4 linked regions of the Homo sapiens genome follow. The protein of the gene in region 3 purifies or fractionates together with the protein of the main gene of each other region. This does not show direct contact. Each region holds a gene or a part of one and is shown on either strand. Other genes may lie near its edges.

Region 1 (3,500 bases), on a different chromosome or scaffold from region 3:
AAGATGGCAATATTGCAAGGTGGCTAAATATTAAAAGGAATAAAGAATGCTCACTGGCAAAAGGCTTTTAAAGTATGTTCCCTCTATCAACGCACAAGCATTCATACTATACTCACCTGGCACATGGACACAAGTAAACGTTCAAAATGTCCTGATGTATCTGACCTAATGTCCTTTTCAAGGTCTCGTCCAAATTCTGACTGATAACATCTGACAATTTCTCGGATTTCCTGATTTGTTCTTGTGCACAAAATCTCAATCAATACACGTTCCTGAGTTCCTGCTCCCTACATGAAATGAAGGGAAGATTATACAAAGAAAAATGAAATTTCTGCAAGTAATTAAATCTTCGTCAAATATTTCTTTGTTCTGTAGAACTAAAAACTATATATTCAGATGGATGATGTGAAATAAAGAATTGCTTTAATTACCACTGTAAATTCAGAACTGTCATAATTTGTACGGTTTTACATATGAAATAGGACAAAATATTCATAATAAATGACATATAGTAGTACCTGCATTGCTTTCCGTAAGCTCCAGGCATCGTAATACGTAGGAGGCATGAAGAGGGCCAGGATCAGTTCTTCCATATTTCCACTTAACTCTGATTTGAGATCTTTGATTAAATCCTATTTAATCACAAATACAAGCTAAGTATATGTGTTCTCCAAATTTTGTCACTTAAATCTTTTAAGGAAAATACAAAAAAAGAAATGGAATTGCTTTATAAAAACCTAAATTTGAAAGCTGAATGTTAATATACTAAGAAGTAAATAAAGGCCAGGCGCGGTGGCTCATGCCTGTAATCCCAGCACTTTGGGAGGTCAAGGCAGGAGGATCATGAGGTCAGGAGATCAAGACCATCCTGGTTAACACGGTGAAACCCTGTCTCTACTAAAAACACAAAAAATTAACCGGGAGTGGTGGCAGGCACCTGTAGTCCCAGGTCCTCGGGAGGCTGACACAAGAGAACAGCGTGAACCTGGGAGGCAGAGCTTGCAGTGAGCTGAGATCGCACCACTGCACTCCAGCCTGGGCGACAGAGCAAGACTCCGTCTCAAAAAAAAAAATAAATAAATAGAAATAAAAAAGAAGTAAATAAATTTAAAGTCTGTTACACTTACACATTTATTACACTCAAGCAGATCTATTTTATTCATTCTATCAATAAACATTTAATAAAATCTTATTCCACTCTACCAGGTACAAAAACAAGGGATATATGAAACAAAGAATTATTCAAACTGACAAAATGATAAACAGATATTTACTTAGTAAAAGGAACTGTTCTTGGTTCTATGAGGAAGTAGAAACCATTATCATCTTGTTCTTATTTGTTTTTTGTTGTTATTTTTTTTGAGACAGAGTCTCGCTCTGTGGCCCAGGCTGGAATGCAGTGGTGTGATCTCGGCTAACTGCAACCTCTGCCTCCTGGGTTCAAGCGCTTCTCCTTCCTCAGCCCCCTGAGTAGCTGGGACTACAGGCACATCCCACCACGCCAGGCTAATTTTTGTATTTTTAGTAGAGATGGGGTTTCACATGTTGGCCAGGCTGGTCTTGAATGCCTGACCCCAAGTGATACACCCGCCTTGGCCTCCCGAAGTGCTGGCATTACACACATGAACCACTGTGCCCAGCCGATATTGTTCTTATTTGGAAAGATACACATCTAAAAAAAAAATAATGTAAGGTAACCTGTACTCTAGCACTGGGTAAGTAGCATAGAAATAAGTAATAGAGAAAGTTGAAACAGAAAAAGTTCAAAGTCAGCTGGAGAGCTCAGAGAAAAATGTAAAAATTAGCATGCAAAGACGAAGGAGAAAGGTATTTCAGGTAAGAAGGAACACCACCAAGGAACAGAGAAGGGGTTCCCAGCCTTGACTCTTCATTACATTCATTGTGGAGCTTTAAAAAAAAAAAGAAAAACATTGATGTCCAGGACTAAGACTCAGAGATTCTGTGTATTTTTAAGTTTTAAAGGAAATTACGATGTTCAGTTAAGGTTGAGAATTACTCGTATAGAGCCAAGAATGAGCAAAGCTTGTTCAATGGAACAATAAGACAACCGGTTTTGCTACAGAGGAAGGTTTTCATAATAGATGAGTTAAAACAAAGTTGTAACTAAATCTTGGATTATTACACTGAATGCCAAGCTAAAGAATATGGACTTGATTCTGTTTGCTGGGAGGAACCACTGGAAACTTTTCATGCAAGAAAATGGCACTGATGTAGCAACAATATTCAGAATGGATGATGGTGACAAAGAAGCTATAGATGAAAACATTTAGGCTACTGGAATATTTAGTTAAGAGGTAATAAAGTCTTGGACTTGAATGGTAACAATGGAAATGAGAAGGAACAAAGTAGACAAAAGAAACATTTTAAAGGGCCATTTTATAGATTAGATCAATAAAAACTAGTAAATAACCAACTGCTAGGACAAAGCATACAGAATACTCCCTATGATAAAAGAAAAACATGGACTCAAAGATGACTATAGCAGGCTAGAAAAACAGTGTTTTACTAATTAGGAAGTTAAGAAAAGAGGTGGCTAGTGGTACGGAAATTAGATTGTTAGTTTTAATTCTAAAGCAATATATAAAAAAACTTGAGACAGCATTGTGCAGACTAGATAAAAAATTCATAACATGGAAAATATCTTTGTGAGAATAGTGAGTCTGATGTTGAAGCTTAAGGAGATCTAGGGTTTGTGTTGCATAATCAGTCACTGGGCTGGGCAGACAGGGAAAGGCAAAATAGAATAAGCAAGGTGGGACCAATCAATGGACCACTACCCCATTCTGAGAAATATAAACTAGATGCAGAGAACATTAGGATATTTTTAGGATTCCTATCTAAATGGCAAAGCAGGTCAGGCGTGGTGGCTCATGCCTGTAATCCCAGCACTTTGGGAGGCCAAGGCAGGCAGATCACATGAGGCCAAGAGTTTGAGACCACACTTGCTAACATGGCAAAATCCCGTCTCTACTAAAAGTACAAAAATTAGCTGGGTGTGGTGGCAGACACCTATAATTCCAGCTACTCGAGAGGCTGAGGCACGAAAATCGCTCTTGCCTGGAAAGTGGAGGCTGCAGTGAGCGGAGATCATGCCACTGCACTCCAGCCTTTTGAGACTCTGTCTCAAAAAAAAGTAAAAAAAAAAAAAAAAAAAGCAAAGCAGTGCTATCCATGTTTTCCCATTACATCTGAGGAACAATGGCATTTTTTAGCCATAGAATCTTGTTGGATTTAGAAACTGATCATCCATTCAACAAGTACTAAGTGGCTACTTGCCATTATATACTTGGTACTGTAATACAAAGATGACTATGACCATGGTTTGTCCTATGGGAGCTCAGTTTTTGGGGGTGGGCCGTGAGATTAGTAATAACAGAGGTTTTACAAAGTGCTATGGGACTACAGTATTAAGAAGCAGCTAAATTCTGTCCAGACTAATGAAAGAAACTTCAGAGTAGCTGATATTTAAGCCAAATCTT
Region 2 (3,500 bases), on a different chromosome or scaffold from region 3:
CCTAATAATTTTCAAAAAACTCTCAAATACATGGGCAAGCACATCAAGTTTGGCTTTACTAGCAGAAAGCAAATTTAATTCCAGCATACAAATCTCAGGATAAATTATTTCCCCTTGAGTGAGGTTTTCGAGTAAGTCATTTGGACTGCTTGATGCACTGAAACCTTCTGTTTCAGACTTTAAGTCTACCCCTGAAAAGAGAAAAGCGAAAGATTACTTGTATTCCCTAAACACTAAATATTTCAAACTTCATTAATCATTTAGAAGATCTAGTGGCAAAAATAGTAATTCAGAGGATGCTTACAAAACCTTTTCCAATCTTTTCCTATAACACAACTTTTGACAATGATATGGAAATTTTGAAGATTAATGAGTTCCCTTAAAAGCAATTTTCATCTTCAATAGAACTACAAATTTTACAAATAAGAATTTTTACAGACATATGATAGAGATTTAACACATCCCATGGACACAACTTTAAAAAAAAAAAACCTATTCAAACTTTCTGACCCCCCCCTCAAATACCTAAATCACAGAGCAGTTCAATTTGCCTACCCAAATCTTTGTGAAAATAGTAGGCTTGACTAGTGGTTGGAAGAATGATCAATTTTGCCTTCTTCATAAGTGAGAAACAGACTCTGTCTTATTGAATATTGCATTTTGGAAAATTTGACTTATATGATCTTTTAAGACTGCTGTGCTCTTAATAAAATGTTGATACAGTTAAGAAATTTATAAATTTCTACCTAGATCAGAATTCTTTAAGTTGAGATCTACTTAGCAAACATAAAAAAGGAGGAAATCCAAAATTATAAAGTCAAATCTGTACTATGGTAAGCTGTACTATAAAAAAATTAATAAACCAATATTTTTTCAAAAAGCACCAGTCATGGGTCCATCAAGCCCTTTAAGTAAGATATCAGTGATTATTCCCATTCACTAGATGAGAGCGAGAAAACTGACTGTGAGGAAGATATCCTACTGAGAACTCAGTGAAGACTAGCAGTGGCTGGGTGCGGTGGCTCACGCCTGTAATCCCAGCACTTTGGGAGGCCGAGGCGGGTGGATCACGAAGTCAGGAGTTCGAGACTAGCCTGGGCAACATGGTGAAACCCCATCTCTACTAAAAATATAACAATTAGCTGGGCATGGTGGCGGGCTCCTGAAATCCTAGCTACTTGGGAGGCAGAGGTAGAAGAATAGCTTGAACCTGGGAGATGGAGGTTGCAGTGAGTCGAGATCACGCCACTGCACTCTAGCCTGGGCGACAGAGCAAGACTCCATTTCAAAAAAAAAAAAAAAAAAAAAAAAAAACTAGCAGTACTGGGACACTCACAAGGTCAGCATATAAAAAGATGGAGTCTTGCCAGAAGTCTCTTGGCTCTAATCAACCCATCTTTTCCATTCTACTCATTTTAAGTCCAAAGACAAGGGAGGAAAGGATCATAGGCAATATAGTTCCATCCTAAAGACAAATTGAGCTGTGGTAAACTAAGAAGAAATCTATGCTTGGCTGTCACAGACAGGTGTCTGCATTCCTGTATTATGTATTCTTTATAACAAACTGCCTGAATGCTCTTCCTGCCAGTGTTTGTCTGCCTAGCTTGTTTTCATTTAGTCCTCAATGTAAACATTGCCTCTTCAGAAAGGACTTCCCTCACCACCCAGTTACTAATACGACATCACCCAGTTTATCGATTTCTATTTTATTATCTATTTCTGGTATTTATTGTCTTTCACACTAGAATATACATGAAATTGGGGACTCTGTCCTTCACTCCATGTTCTTAACCACTCAGATGATGTTTGTGATAACAAACTATATCACATTGTTGCATATATGAATGCCAGACTGTTGGGAAGATCAATAAAAAGATTATGCAACACACTTGTTAAACTGTAAGGCAATACAAAATTCTAAAGTGGTATTATTATGAACCATTTTGCTATTTAATGATCTGGCTTGCAGATCTAATTACAAGCACTTCAATGATATTTTACCATCATCCTGGGTTTCGCCATCTTCAGGATTGCTTTCACTATCTGCTTCGTAACCTTCTTCTTCAACTAAAAGTTTAAAACTACAACACTGAGAATCCTCAGCTTCTTCTGAAAAATCACCAGGCTGGGATGACAATTCTTCTGCAGATTGATGACTCTATAAATCAGTGTAATTCAAAGGTTGTAACATTTGCTTGTTTTTAGTAATAGAATACTTATTACTCAAAAGTCATGTTAAGGACAGTTTCAATATTTTCTTGAAGAAAAAAACTTAGTAAACAATATGAATCATTATAAATTATGAAATTCACTCAGCAAAATTTCCCAGATCCTTTCAGACAACTTAATACCTCAAAAAGGGGGTTTCTAACAAAGTAAGTTATAGGTCATTTCAGTTTAATAAATAAATCTATGTAAGAAATTTCATTCTAGTTATACAATTGGAAATGACAAAAAACCACAATGTGGTAAAATTTTACTTCATACAATTTAATACTAATATATATTATTTGTGCACATTTGTTAATAAAAAAGATTTTTTCATAAGGATTTTTATAAATGCCTTATAAGTTAGGTAACTAGAGCAGACAAGACATTTTTTTCAAAGGGATTAATTAAAAGATCTCAGAATGCAACTGTCTACATAACAAGCATCTCAGAAGTCAAGAGTTCCAGTACTAACTTCCTGTGTAAGAAAGAAATTTTCCTTTTCTTATAAAAATTCCACTAATACCTTCATTTTAGAAAACATTTTCACTTAAAGAAGCTCAGAATACTTCATCATTGTAACAACAATAAAAGGTAGAATAAAGTAGGTATTTTAACATTTTACAGTTAGTCAATTAATTCAGTAATATGATGAACGTATTCATAGCTATTTCAGCATGTTTTTAAGTTATGGCAAATAGTAACATAAAATGTTATTTCAAAACCTTATAAAACATTATATATATGGCTAGATCAAGGAGCTAAAAGGAGAAGTTATATAAAAAATAAAGGACAGATGGCAACTAAAGGTAAAATAAACATAAAATGAGAGGGAAACAAGCCAATTATGTACCACATAATTTTAGGAAAGAAAATTACAACAGTTGTTTTAGGAAAAAATGTTAAACAACTAAAACACTGTGACTGCTATTTTCTATGTAGGCACTAGTCATTTTTATGTTGAATGATTTAAAATTAATGTGAGTAGAGAGTTCTGGAAATATTAGCTATACCACCAAAGAACCAGATAGGATAGGTAAATCACCACCATCCCTGAATTAGCATTTAATACACTATCAGGTATATGTAAAATATACCAAATCAAGTAATATATTTCTGTCTTAACTCGAAGTAATTCTCAGTAAATTTCCAGATTAGATAAGGAAAAGCTTATCATATCACTCTCCTGTTATGTATAAGACAGGGCAATGACAAAATACTGTCCATCCCATCACATATCCATCACGAGGAGATAAGATCCACTGAACTCATCTGACCAAGTCCTAGTCCAT
Region 3 (3,476 bases):
GGTGCGCTGTTGGGGTGGAGCAGGACTTGAACCCAGGCTCCCTGATGGGCGTGTTTCCAGTGTACTTAGGACACACTGGGCCAAGACACATGGGCTCTGGATGTCCTTAGCCCTCTCTTCCTCTTTCTTTCTCTGGCCCCAGTATGCAGACTCGGACAGCGGGGATGACTCTGACAAGCGCTCTTGTGAAGAGAGCTGGAGGCTCATCTCCTCCTTGCGGGAGCAGCTGCCGCCCACCACGGTCCAGACCATTGTCAAACGCTGTGGTCTGCCCAGCAGTGGCAAGCGCAGGGCCCCTCGCAGGGTTTATCAGATCCCCCAGCGACGCAGGCTGCAGGGCAAAGACCCCCGCTGGGCCACCATGGCTGACCTGAAGATGCAGGCGGTGAAGGAGATCTGCTACGAGGTGGCCCTGGCTGACTTCCGCCACGGGCGGGCTGAGATTGAGGCCCTGGCCGCCCTCAAGATGCGGGAGCTGTGTCGCACCTATGGCAAGCCAGACGGCCCCGGAGACGCCTGGAGGGCTGTGGCCCGGGATGTCTGGGACACTGTAGGCGAGGAGGAAGGAGGTGGAGCTGGCAGTGGTGGTGGCAGTGAGGAGGGAGCCCGAGGGGCGGAGGTGGAGGACCTCCGGGCCCACATCGACAAGCTGACGGGGATTCTGCAGGAGGTGAAGCTGCAGAACAGCAGCAAGGACCGGGAGCTGCAGGCCCTGCGGGACCGCATGCTCCGCATGGAGAGGGTCATCCCCCTGGCCCAGGTAGGACTGGCCTTCTGCCTCCCTTCTCTCCTCCCTCGGCTCTTCACTTTAGGAGTCTGAACCTTCCATCTCAGAGCCTAACCTTCCCCAAGTCTGGAAAAAATTGCATTGAAGTATAGTACGTTTTTTTCAATATTGTTTACGAACCACATGCCTCGCTGTCACCAGGCTGCTAATTAAAATAGATTCCCGGGTTCCACCCCAGACCTACTGAATCCACATCTTTGGGGACAAATCTGCATTTATAATAAGCTCTGGGTGTTTCTGAAATACAGTGAAGTCTAAGACCCACTGATATAAAGTTTGCAGTTTTGTTTTGTTTCTGAGGTGAAGTCTTGCTCTGTTGCCAGTCTGGAGTGCAGTGGCACAATCTCGGCTCACTGCAACTTCCGCCTCCCAGGTTCAAGCCATTCTCCTGCCTCAGCCTCCTGAGTAGCTGGGACTACAGGCGCGCACCACCACACCCGGCTAATTTTTTTTTTTTGTATTTTAGTAGAGACGGGGTTTCACCATGTTGGCCAGGATGGTCTTGATCTCTTGACCTTGTGATCCGCCCACCTCAGCTTCCCAAAGTGCTGCGATTACAGGCGTGAGCCACTGCGCCCGGCCCTAAACCACTATTTTTCGAGCTTCCTTATCTCTAGGCTTTTCTCTGGACCCTTTGACATCCAGCCACTCCAGGTCCCTCTTGAATCCACATGTCCTGAGGATTCAGCTCTCCTCACATCCCTTCTCCTTTTCTCACTCCTCCCTCCCAGGATCATGAGGATGAGAATGAAGAAGGTGGTGAGGTCCCCTGGGCCCCGCCTGAAGGATCAGAGGCAGCAGAGGAGGCAGCCCCCAGTGACCGCATGCCGTCAGCCCGGCCCCCCTCGCCACCACTGTCAAGCTGGGAGCGGGTGTCACGGCTCATGGAGGAGGACCCTGCCTTCCGTCGTGGTCGTCTTCGCTGGCTCAAGCAGGAGCAGCTACGGCTGCAGGGACTGCAGGGCTCTGGGGGCCGGGGCGGGGGGCTGCGCAGGCCCCCAGCCCGCTTTGTGCCCCCTCACGACTGCAAGCTACGCTTCCCCTTCAAGAGCAACCCCCAGCACCGGGAGTCTTGGCCAGGGATGGGGAGCGGGGAGGCTCCAACTCCGCTCCAACCCCCTGAGGAGGTCACTCCCCATCCAGCCACCCCTGCCCGCCGGCCTCCGAGTCCCCGAAGGTCCCACCATCCCCGCAGGAACTCCCTGGATGGAGGGGGCCGATCCCGGGGAGCGGGTTCTGCACAGCCTGAACCCCAGCACTTCCAGCCCAAAAAGCACAACTCTTATCCCCAGCCACCCCAACCCTACCCAGCCCAGCGGCCCCCAGGGCCCCGCTACCCCCCATACACTACTCCCCCACGAATGAGACGGCAGCGTTCTGCCCCTGACCTCAAGGAGAGTGGGGCAGCTGTGTGAGTCCCACATCCTGGGCAGAGGGCCTGGTGGGGCCCCTTGCTAGGAGAAGGGAAGACGCCCGAGACGCTGCTTCCCCAGAAGTGCTGGGGCAGGGAGGCCCAGGAGATGAGAGAGAAGGTCCGAGTAGGTGATAGAAGACAAGGGGGAGACCGAGCCGGAGGCTGAGGAAAGGAAGAGGGCACGGAGTTGCCAGGAGCAAACCAAAGTGAAGAGAGAGATAGGAAGCTGCCTCGGGGCCACCCCTTGCAAAGGGGGTGTGTCCCACAAACGCTGCTATGGGTGGGGTGGGGGGCTGGGGTGCTGCGTAGCCAGTGTTTGACTTTCTTTTCAAGTGGGGGAAAGTGGGAGAGGACTGAGAGTGAGGCAAGTTCTCCCCAGCCCCTGTCCGTCTGTCTGTCTGTCTGTGGTGGTTTCTGTTTCTTGGGAGGCATGGTAGGATCATAAGTCATTCCCCTCCCCTTCCAGGCCTCCTGCTATATTTGGGGGACCTGACTGGTTTGGCTGGAGTCCCATGAGGATGTGGGCCCTTTAATAAAGGATAGCAAACAGGGAGCTTGTGGCCTGTTTGTTTTGGGTTTTCATGGAGGTGTAGGTTATATAAGGCAATGGCACAGGTCTTAAGCATACTTATCAGTGAAGTATTGTATGTGTGCTCTGTGCAGGCACCACCCAGATCTGGATATAAGAATGTTTCCATCTTGTCTTCCTGAACTTCACCCTCCTGTCTCTTCCTTCAGGGTGCGCAGCCCGATCTTTTCCCCGCTTTTTTTTTTTGGGAGACAGGGTCTTGCTTTGTTGCCCAGGCTGGAGGTACAGTCTTGGCTCACTGCAGCCTCCGCCTCCTGAGTAGCTGGGATTACAGGCATGTGCCACCACGCCCGGCTCATTACTGTTTTTTTTGTAGTGACGAGGTTTCACCATATTGGCCAGGCTGGTCTCGAACTCCTGATGACCTCAAGTGATCCGCCCACCTTGGCCTCCCAAAGTGGTGGGATTACAGGTGTGAGCCACCGCGCCCGGCCTCCCCTGCTTTCATGTTTGCTTACCCAGTGTCTCAGTCTGTGCCAGCAGCACCACTGTCTGTTATGGACAAAGCACAGAAGCGGGGATGCGAGGGGAGGTAGAGGGACCGCCAGCCTGTCAATGCTTAACTGGCTGTTGCTGACAGATACAGAAGGATTTGTGGGGTACAGAGGAGTTCTGCTTTAAGTCACCTAACTTACTTGAAAGGTCTCCCAAGCAGCCAGTTTCTCTTGATAGTGAATGGGTTGGGC
Region 4 (3,500 bases), about 35 Mb from region 3:
TCTTGCCACTCCCATATGCCTGGAACTGGATCAATTCAAATGTCTGCTTTCTCCAGGCCTACAACAGACTACTCCATTGCCAAAGGGGGTTACACACACACACACACACACACACACACACGCACACACTCTTACTTTTTGAAGCAGATGTCATTCTTTTGTTTTTTTCGAGAGTCTCACACTGTTACCCAGGGTGGAGTGCAGTGGTGCAATCATAGCTTGCTGTGGCCTCGACCTCCTGGGCTCAAGGGATCCTCCCACTCCAAGCTCCCAAGTAGCTGGGACATAAGCACACATCACTGCGCCAGGTTGATTTTTTGTAGAGAGAGGGTCTCACTTTGTTGCCCAGATTGGTCTCAAATTCCTGGGCTCAAGCAATCCTCCTGCCTTGGCCTCCCAAAGTGCTTGGATTACAGGTGTGAGCCACCGTGCCTGTCCTGCTCTATCCTTCTATTTCACAAAAACAAAACACAGAAAGGAACGCTAACTTCCTTTCCTTCCCACTTCTTTGTAATTACAATGGAAGATACTTCTCATCTGGTTCCTACATCTTCTCATGTACTTAGTCAAGAATACCAGTACTTAATATTATTATCTATTCCCTCTTTTTTTTCCCTTTTTTTTGAGACGGAGTCTCGCTCTGTCGCCCAGGCTCAAGTGCCCGCCACCATGCCCGGCTAATTTTTTGTATTTTTAGTAGAGACGGGGTTTCACCATGTTAGCCAGGATGGTCTCGATCTCCTGACCTCGTGATCTGCCCGCCTCGGCCTCCCAAAGTGCCGGGATTACAGGCGTGAGCCACCGCACCCAGCTTTTCCCTCCTTTCTAATCTTCCTTTGCACATACCTTTCCTTCCCACTTCTCTGTAATTACAATGGAAGATGTTAATCTTGTCTGGTTCCTACTTTTTCTCATATACTCAGTCAAAAATACCAGTACTCAATATCATTATCTATTCCCTCTCTTTTTTCCCCCTTTCTTTTCTTTTTTTCAATCTTTGACCTTATTTGATACTCTCCTAACTTTTTAAAAAACATCCAAATCACCTCTTGATCTCAAAGCTACCTCTCCAACTACCATCTCTTCAGCCTTCCCTCAGTCAAATTTCTTTAACAAGTTTTTTTGGCCAGGCACAGTGGCATGAACCTATTGTCTCAGCTATTCAAGAGGCTGATGAGGATTGTAAGTTCAAGTTCAAGCTCAGCTTGGGCAAAATAAGGAGACCCATTTGCCAAAAAAAAAAAAAAAAGAATTCTTGGAAGACTCTCAGAAAATGGCAGTGGCACAGTTTTATCTCTCTTCAAATCTCCACATGGAATGAGAGCTCTGGACAGCAAAACCGAGACCCAAACCAAAACCCTGGCCAGACACAGTGGCTCACGTCCATAATCCCAACACTTTGGGAAGCCGAGGTGGGTGGATCACCTGAGACCAGGAGTTCGAGACCAGCCTGGCCAACATGGTAAAACCGCGTCTCTACTAAAAATGCAAAAATTAGCCAGGCATGGTGGCACGCACCTGTAATCCCAGCTACGCAGGAGGCTGAGGCACAAGAATAGCTTGAATCTGGAAGGCAAAGCCACTGCACTCCAGCCTGGGCGACAGCAAGACTCTGTCTCAAAAAATAAAAAAGAAACCAAAACCTTCAGACAACACTGCAACAAAGTTAAGTTACCAGGTATCCCCCAAGACCCAAAATGTAAGTGCATAACAAAGCACCAACAGCTGTAGGACCTGTATAGTACTGGTGTCCACGCAGGAGAAAGCAGAGAGAAAGCAAATGGACCTGAGAACAGGAGAACACTGAAATAATCAACAGGCAGTCAAGGGAAAGCACAACAGTCAAAACTGAGAACAGCACTTACAACTAGCAAGGGGGCCACACACGGTGGCTCATGCCTGTAATCCCATCACTTTGGGAGGCCAAGGTGGGTGGATCATCTGAGTCAGGAGTTCGAGACCAGCCTGGAAAACATGGTGAAACCTCATCTCTACTAAAAATACAAAAATTAGCTGGGCACGGTGACACACGAGGTCCCAGCTACTCAGGAGGCTAAGGCAGGAGAATCGCTTGAACCCAGGAGACGGAGATTGCAGTTAGCTGAGATTGCGCCACTGCACTCCAGTCTGGGCGACAGAGTGAGACTCTGTCTTAAAAAAAAAAAAGGTCTGAAGGGATGAAGCTGACCTGGCTGCCAGGGCTTCCTTCTGGGGACAGGGCCCTACACTGTCCCTAGAAGGGAGTTCCTAGAAGAGAAACTGTTGAGAGCAGGACCAAATTCAGTAGGACAGGGATGGTCCAGAACAAGCTGGGAAAGGGAACAAAAGCAACAAATCTCAGAAAGCAAGCCACCATATTTCTCACCACCACAGAAAAACAACAGAAGCAGCTCTGTGAAGTTAGAAAAAGCTATTCTAAATCATGCTTCCTTCGAAAAGACCAGGAAAACTAATTTTACATAAAAATGAACAGAAAATACAGAAGTTAAATCCCATAAAGTTATAATAAGAAAAAATAATAGCATTCCTACAGACAATGAAAGCATGCCAGAAAGACATCCGCATATCATATCAAAATTGCAACTTCTATTTCAAAATAAGCTAAAAAGACATTAAGAAAATTATATAAGGCATGAAAGAACATCAATCAGAATTGGAAAAACTCAAAAATGAAATGAGAACTCAGAAAGGTATGAGCAATTAGGAATCAAAAACTATTTACCAGGTATCACCACCTAAAAGTCCCACACCTTCTCGATCTCAAAACATCCAAAACCTAACCCACAACTGTCCTTCCAGAACTCTTCTCCTGGGGTCCCTTCCTTAACAGTTAACACCATTCAACACCATTCATCAACCTGCACATTCCTTTGACTCCTTTTTCTTTTTCTGAGTCAGGGTCTCACTTTGTTGTCCAGGCTGGAGTGCTGTGGAGTGATCACAGCTCTACTGCTTTGACCTCCCTGGGCTTAGATGATCCTCCTGCCTGAACCTCCTCAGTAGCTGGGACCACAGGCCTGCGCCACCAAGACCGGATAATTTTTTTTTCTACTTTTCTTTTGTAGAGACAGGATTTTTCCATGTTGCCCAGGTGGGTCTCAGGCTCCTGGGCTCAAGCAATCCACCTGCCTCAGCCTCCCAAAATGCTGTGATTACAGGCATGAGCCAAGGTACCTGGCCTCCTTTGACTCCTTAATTTAGGTTCCACATTCAATCAATGAAGGGGTTGTTAGTACACTAGAATCTCTCTCTAATCTGTCCCACATCTTGCCATTCCAACAAGTATGAACCTTCTTTAGGGGCACCATCGTCATGCTCCTTGGACTATCCTAACAACCTCTAAACAGCTCTTCTGCCTCTAGTCTTCCTTTGTGCCTCACCCACAATTCATCCCCCACATTTAAGCCTTCAGTGGTACTTCTTTCCTAGCCATTAGGAAAACATCCAAACTCCCTTACATATAGAATGGTAAGCTGCTATAAATTCACAATCCCCAAAAC

The links.
Region 1: the proteins of KIF1C (region 3) and ANXA7 purify together in Homo sapiens (affinity purification with mass spectrometry, with the first as the bait; one large-scale study listed by BioGRID). This does not show direct contact.
Region 2: the proteins of KIF1C (region 3) and LYST purify together in Homo sapiens (affinity purification with mass spectrometry; one large-scale study listed by BioGRID and IntAct). This does not show direct contact.
Region 4: the proteins of KIF1C (region 3) and CASC3 purify together in Homo sapiens (affinity purification with mass spectrometry; one large-scale study listed by BioGRID and IntAct). This does not show direct contact.

What each region holds. Positions count from the first base shown.
Region 1 is NC_000010.11:73,383,059-73,386,558, forward strand, and holds part of ANXA7 (annexin A7), read right to left. Parts: intron 633-3,500; coding exon 519-632; intron 288-518; coding exon 117-287; intron 1-116. UniProt on the Homo sapiens protein: Calcium/phospholipid-binding protein which promotes membrane fusion and is involved in exocytosis.
Region 2 is NC_000001.11:235,800,907-235,804,406, forward strand, and holds part of LYST (lysosomal-trafficking regulator), read right to left. Parts: intron 2,159-3,500; coding exon 2,002-2,158; intron 192-2,001; coding exon 1-191. UniProt on the Homo sapiens protein: Adapter protein that regulates and/or fission of intracellular vesicles such as lysosomes. Might regulate trafficking of effectors involved in exocytosis.
Region 3 is NC_000017.11:5,021,950-5,025,425, forward strand, and holds part of KIF1C (kinesin-like protein KIF1C), read left to right. Parts: intron 1-142; coding exon 143-760; intron 761-1,518; coding exon 1,519-2,202; 3' UTR 2,203-3,476. UniProt on the Homo sapiens protein: Motor required for the retrograde transport of Golgi vesicles to the endoplasmic reticulum. Has a microtubule plus end-directed motility.
Region 4 is NC_000017.11:40,147,037-40,150,536, reverse strand, and holds part of CASC3 (protein CASC3), read right to left. Parts: intron 1-3,500. UniProt on the Homo sapiens protein: Required for pre-mRNA splicing as component of the spliceosome. Core component of the splicing-dependent multiprotein exon junction complex (EJC) deposited at splice junctions on mRNAs.